Linked DNA regions of Homo sapiens. The protein of the gene in region 1 interacts with the protein of each later gene in a biochemical or structural test. Each region holds a gene or a part of one and is shown in the gene's direction. Other genes may lie near its edges.

Region 1 (4,473 bases):
AAGATACCATCCCATTCATGTGCTTGAGAATATTCAGTCGGTCAGAAGGCATGAAAGGAAAAACAAATATCAAAGAGATTGTAAGGCAGTGTGTACTAAGGATCCAATGAGAGGGGAGCATTTCTTGCAGGTTAAAAGTGTTCTGAGGAAGGAGAGAGGTGATTAGGTGGGCAGATGCTTCCTTCATCTCCATCTCTAGCTGTGTTTCCTTTTTCACAAAAAAGAATGTATCTGTCTTTACCCATAGTGCTCTCTCCAGGAAATCAAGGCATTGTATTCATTGAGTAACCATTTTTTGAGCATTTTCGATATTTCAACTGTGGGACTGGGCACTAAGCCAGGGAAGAATGTAAGTAGTTAAATTTATTGATTGCTTACTATGTGCCTGGCACACTTTTCCTAAGATTTTACATGGACTCATCTGATCCTTGAAAAACCCTGTGAGGTAGGTAGTATTGTTATCTCCGTTTTACAGATGGAGAATTTGATGTATAAAGAGGTTAAGTAACTTGGAGGAGACCATATCACTGGTAATTGGAGTAACTTTTTAGGCTTCGAACTTGCAAAATTTGAAAATTTCTTTTGGTAGGCGGGACCCACAGATGCATGCAATACTTCTAGATCAGTTTTTTCATCTGGGCACTTGACATTTTGGACCAGATAATTTATTATTTTGAGGGTTGTTCTGTGCATCACAGGATGTTCAGCATCCGCAGTAGCACTCCCCGTCCAGTTGTGACAATCACCAATGCTTCCAGATATTGCTAGATGTCCCTGGGAGTGGCGCAGAATCGACCCTGGCTGAGAACCACTGCTCTAGATCTTCATTAGGAATTGTAACGTGAAAGCCTCCAAACTTTTAGATGTTGAGTTAATTTAAACATCTTTTGGTCGAGTGCTGTGGCTCACACCTATAATCCCAGCACTTTGGGAGGCCAAGGCAGGTGGATTGCTTGAGGTCAGGAGTTCGAGACCAGCCTGGCCAACATAGTGAAACCTCATTTTTACTAAAAATACAAAAATTAGTTGGGCGTGGTGGCATGCGCCTGTATTCCCAGCTACCCGGGAGGCTGAGTCAGGAGAATTACTTGAACCCTGGGAGCGGAGAGCCGAGATTGTGCCACTGCACTCCAGCCTACTTGACAGAGTGAAACTCTGTCTGAAAAAAGAAAAAAAAATCTTTTAATAACATGGAAGCCTAGACCCTATTATGTAGATCCTCAATTTGGAAGCCCTGGTTTCTGAATGTCAAAGATGTGTTGCCATTCTCCTTTTCCTCTGCTAAGCTGCAAATCCTCAAGACAGTGTGCCTGGTAGCCAGTGCCAGTTAAACAACATTGGCACAAATAATAAATTTAGTTTACTATCATAGGTAAACTGTCTTTTAAAATTCACAGTTGGCCATTAAAATTGTCACATTATGTTAGTATCATGGGAGCCATAATATCTACATGAGGGCGATTACCATTAGAACTGAACTTTGAAGAATGGAATCAGTTTTGAAAGGCAGATAAAAGGGCATTGTAAGAACAACAACAGAAGTAAGGACACAAAAATCCAGAAAGTACAGGAGATTTTGATATTGCAGTGGGTAGTTCAGGTTATATAAGGTATTTGTAGCAAACTGGTTAAGGCCAGATATAGAGGTTCTTGAATGTCAGGTTGAGGAACTTGTGCATAAATTTTTAGGTATGGGAGCTATTGCATGCTTTTTGTTGCGTACTGATGTGATAGAATAATCTTCTGGTCTGGGATTACTAACCAGGTGTATTTATGGGAGAAAACTAGCGATCTAGGCAAGAAGCGATGGAGGCCTGAATTGAAGTGGTGGCAAAAAGAGGTGAGTGAGGCTGGACCCAGTGGCTAACGCCTGTAATCCCAGCACTTTGGGAGGCCAAGGCAGGAGGATTGAGCCCAGGAGTTTGAGACCAGCCTGTGCAACATGATAAGACTCTGCCTCTACAAAAGAATTTTAAAAAATTAGCTGGGTGTGGTGGTGTGCACCTGTAGTCCCAGCTACTTGGGAGGCTGAGGTGGGAGGTTTGCTTGAGCCCAGCAGTTTGAGGCTTCAGTGAGCTGAGTTTGTGCCACTGCATTCCAGCCTGGGAAACAGAGTGCAACCCTGTCTCAAAGCAAAAAGAGAGAGAAAGGAAAAAAAAGATGAGTGTATAAGATACTGAGGAAGTTAAGAATCTGGGATTTGACAGCTGATTAGGTGTCAGAGGAGTCAAAAATACATAGGAATCTTCATCATGGGTGAATGAGAGTTTGACCCAACCTCTGAACAGAACAAGTCAGAGCAGAAATAGGAGTTTGGGGAGAGAAGATGCTAAGTTACATTTTGCAGTTGTAAAAAAAAAATCTACCAGTACTGGTCTAGACCAGTAGAACTCAGCTGGTCTAGTCTGAAAAAATATTTTGGAGGCCAGAATCATAGAATCATTGAATATTTAGAGCTGGACTATGACTTTAGATAGAGATCAGCCAGCATTCTGACTTCTTCATTTCTCAAGTGAGAAAGCTGTGGTTGAAACAGATTCAGTAACTTACGCAAGTTTATATTCTCTGTCAAGTGACCCAGCTGGGATTTAAACAGGCCTTTTGACTCTAATTCTAGTATTCCTCCCATGTGCAGTATTTTATTTTATATTGCACAATAGATAAAATATAATTTTGGTTTCTCCTTTTTTATTCTAAAAGAGTAAAAGCAGTTATCTCAATATGTTATGTTCATTCTAGTGATGACTTTACTATCATGTACTAAATGTGTTTTGTTTAAAGTAGAAGTTAACTTCACGTTATACTGATTTGTCCCCCCATAAACCAACTGTATGTCATCATATAACAAAAGTTGTTAAAAGTGCTATATACCATATAATGTTGCATCTAAACTGGGACACTTATCTGAGATGCTTTTGCGTGGGACAAATGCTATATTAGAAATGACTAGGACTGGCCAGGTGCAGTGGCTCACACGGGTAATCCCAGCACTTTGGGAGACTGAGGCACGTGGATCATTTGAGGTCAGGAATTCAAGACCAGCTTGGCCAACATGGTGAGACCCCGTCTCTACTAAAAGTACAAAAATTAGCTGGGTGTGATGGCATGTGCCTGTAATCCCAGCTACTTGGGAGGCTGAGGCAGGAGAATCTGAACCTGGGAGGTGGAGGTTGCAGTGAGCCGAGATTGTGCCACTGCGCTCCAGCCTGGGCAACAGAGTGAAACTCTGTTTCGAAAGAAAGAAAAGAAATGACTAGGACAGCAGGAGTAAAACCCCAAGGCATTAGGTCTCCGTAGCTAAGGTGGATCCCACTCATGCAATTCATCAACCTTTGTCTGAAAAAAAAGAAAGAAAATCTGATTTTGTTAAGCTTTTCTTTTGCTTTGCTGTGATACGGTTTGCAGGCCAACACATGCATATTGCTATAGGTTGGTGCGAAAGTTAATTGTGGTTTTTGCTCATTTTTAATGTACCAACCCAATATGCTTTTTTTCCAGCTTAATTTGGCAATTAGGTGGTAAATCACTTGATAGGATAAATTAATCACAATCTGTAAACTTAATTTAAAAATGTGTAACAACCCTCTGTGGAAAATTTGAATATAAACATCAAAAGAATACCATTCTGTAAGCTCTTTTGATTTTTGGCATCTGAAATGTCTGAAAGTATAAATTGCAAAACATATTTACAATTTTAATGACAACTGCAAAAGTATTGCCCATGATTGGAAAGACTAAAATGGTATGCGTTATATGTATTCTGTTCAGGCTGATGCATGATAAATCTCTCACTGAAAAAACAGAAATCCCTATCTCATTTTAAAATTTTAAAAAATTGGCCGGGCACAGTGGCTCATGCCTGTAATCCCAGCACTTTGGGAGGCCGAGGTGGGCAGATCACTGGAGGTCAGGAGTTCAACACCAGCCTGACCAACATGGTGAAACCCCATCTTTACTAAAAATACCAAAATTAGCCTGGTGTGGTGGCACATGCCTGTAATCCCAGCTACTTGTGAGGGTGAGGGAGGAGAATCGCTTGAACCTGGGAGGCGAGGGTTGCAGTGAGCCGAAATTGCGCCATTGCACTCCAGCCTAGCCTGGGCACAAAAGCAAAACTCTGTCTCAAATAAATAATCAATCATTCTAACCTTAAGCAAAATTGGAAAAATGTTGCAACTAATACCTGTATCTCTTTACCTAGTTTTAGTGATTATTAATATTTTGCCACATTTGTTCTATCGTGACATTGCACACCAAAGTATGGCAGTAGGTATCTCACAGAATAAGGGCATTCTACCTGACAGCAATCAAATGATCACCCACAGGAAGTTTAACTTTACAATTCTGTCTGGTCCCTATTCAGATTTTCCCAATTTTCTCAAAATTTTTTTTAAAGTTGTATTTGTTCTTTCACTCAATTGCTGTATCCTGGGTTGCATTTAGTTGTGTCTGAAGTTTCTCTTACATTAGGAG
Region 2 (2,696 bases), on another chromosome or scaffold:
TACCCTTTTTTTTTTTTTAAATTTTGTAGCCATTCTTATGATGCTCTTGATTTGTTGGTTACACAAATCAATTTTATTAAAAATCCAAAGATAAGTCTTTAGGTATATTTTGTACCAAATTAAATTAGAAGACAAAAATTGTGCTTTCATAGTTGCTACAAAGGTAAATAATGGAGAGATTTGGTACAAAACAACAAAATATATATATATTCTCATATATATATATATAGCTGATAAAATTACCTGAGGAGTGTAATGCTTATTTTTTTGTGTATATCTTTGCAATCTATTTTATATATATTGACAAAAGAGACTGTGAAATACTTAGCCATGCAGAATATGTGACCAGACCAGAGCATGTGTAGGAAGACTTTACGGTAATCATTAACTCTACCCCGAAATGATGGACTACAAGTTATAATGTGTGTTACCTACACTTCAATCAGTAATATTAGCAAATCTCCAAATGTTAGTCACATTGGTTTGTCTCCCTTGTACATTCTTTATTCATGATATTACAGTGCTGTAACTGGGTGGTCCTTTTTAAACAAAACATTATTTGCAAAACAGAGGGTATTATTTGTTTTTAAAGCTTTTGTAAATAAAGGCTTCAAAATGTTTTCTTATAAATGTTGATGACTGGTGATTTTCTTTTGGAAATACTTATTTGGGGGATATTGTTCATTTTTATTTGGGCAACTCAACAGAATTCAGTAACTTCCTTCATTAACCCTAGATGATTATTAGTCCATTAATTGAAAAATCAGTCTGAGTTTTCTGCATTTCAAGTGTTGGCTTATTCTTGTTCTTTATGAGTACCTCAACTAGCTAATTAAGGACTGACTTCTGTTTCTCCTTTCCAGGAATGCATTTATTCCGAAGGATATACTTCACAAAGTAAATACATTTGGTATAACTGTGGCTTTTTAAAAAATCTAACACAATGTAGTAAGTTTCTAACTGGCTTCTTTTGTCTTCGTTAAAAAGGAAGTGAAGCTTCTTTTCGCTTGTGATTTGTTAGCTGAGAAAACTAATATTTAAATTCTGTTCAACTATTTGAGAAATCAATGCTGGATTTCAAATAGGAATGATAAAGATTGCCTTTTTATTAGCCACATAGTTGCTCAATCTCATAACTTGTATCATTTCTGGCTTCTGTCCCTAAAAAGTATAGATAATCCCTAACTTACTTTCGACTTAATGATTTTTCAACTTTACAGTGGGTGTATTGAGAGGTAACCCCATCAAAAGTTTAGGAGCGCCTTAGGACCAAAGATGGGGTTATAGTTTCTACTGAATGTGTATTGCTTTTGCACCATTGCAAAGTCAAAATTTATAACTTGAACCATCGTAAATTGGGGGACTGTATGCTGTTGCCTGCATTAAATGCATCTTAGTATTTTTTCAGATGTAACCTCATTGTAGGTTGAGCAACCGTATAGTGTAACTTTTGTAGAGGAACATTTTGACTTTTACTGGGTCTAAGTTTTACTTTTTTATTTTGTTCCAGACAGTCTCAATGTTTGTAAAGTCTAGGTTCCAGATGTAAGATATTTGGCTGATATTTTAGTGTTACTGAGCCATTAATTAATTACAGGCTCATATATTCTGTTAAATCTACTAGAGCAAGGGTTGTCAAACTATGGCCCGTAGCCAGAATCAGCTTGCTGCCTGTTTTTGTGTGGCCCATGAACTGAAAATGGCTTTTAAATGGTTGGGAAAAATAATCAAAAGATTATTTCCTGACATCTGAAAATTACATGAAATTCAAATTTTAGTGTCTATAAGTTTTTATTGGAATGCAGCCACACTAATTTACATATTATCTATGGATACTTTTTTGCTATAATGGGAAAGTTGAGTAGCTGCTACAGAACCTGTGTATGTGTGTCTTGTTTCACATTGCCGCTTGGCAAGCTACAGAATCATGGTGATGCAGATATTACCTGAAAGCATTTGGAATGCCCTGTGTATTGCTAGATTTATTACTTTTTCTGCTACCAGTTCATGCCCTGTATCTCAGAACAAGAAAAGTACCTTTGAATGTTACACTTTCAAGGCACATTGGAATATGGACTATTTTATTATATGCTGGTACATTGTGTTTATAATGCAGTGTCACCATAACTGGTAAAAGAATAGACTGACAGTATCAGACTAACATCACAATATTCCCAACTGGTGGGAAAGCAACAGTCAGAAGAATTAGAAAATTTAAATGAAACATCACAGCAAAATTTCACAAAAGTAATAAAAATGAGGCTGCAACCAAAATGTTTACAAGTAGCCTATTTGTTAGCCAAGCAAAGAAAACCATTTACTAATGCTGAATTACATCGTGCTTGAAGATAGTAACCAACCCAAAGACATGTGTCCAGAGAAAATTAAGACATCAGCCCTTTGATGAGAACAGTAGTTTGAAGAATGAGGATTTTGGACACAACATCAAATGACACTGTTAATTCTTTGCCTCTTACTAGTCAGTACTGCCTAGCTTTATTTTTTGAGAAACCATTGCTGGATTTGAAGTGATCGAAGAATTTGTATGGAACTACAAGTGGGAATATTTTCAAAAAAGTTGATAAACAGTACAACCTGAAGTGGAATCTACTAAGATGTGATGCAACCGATGCTGGGAAAAATGCATGAAGCAGAAAAAAAGTTTATTTGGTCAAATTTTAAGGCTTGTGAAAACG

Evidence for each region. Proteins that work in one complex are often made in the same cells at the same time.
Region 2: the proteins of TNRC6A (region 1) and CNOT7 form a complex in vitro, tested with the Homo sapiens proteins (one study listed by BioGRID).

What each region holds. Positions count from the first base shown.
Region 1 is NC_000016.10:24,732,046-24,736,518, forward strand, and holds part of TNRC6A (trinucleotide repeat-containing gene 6A protein), read left to right. Parts: intron 1-4,473.
Region 2 is NC_000008.11:17,227,162-17,229,857, reverse strand, and holds part of CNOT7 (CCR4-NOT transcription complex subunit 7), read left to right. Parts: 3' UTR 1-2,696. UniProt on the Homo sapiens protein: Has 3'-5' poly(A) exoribonuclease activity for synthetic poly(A) RNA substrate. Its function seems to be partially redundant with that of CNOT8.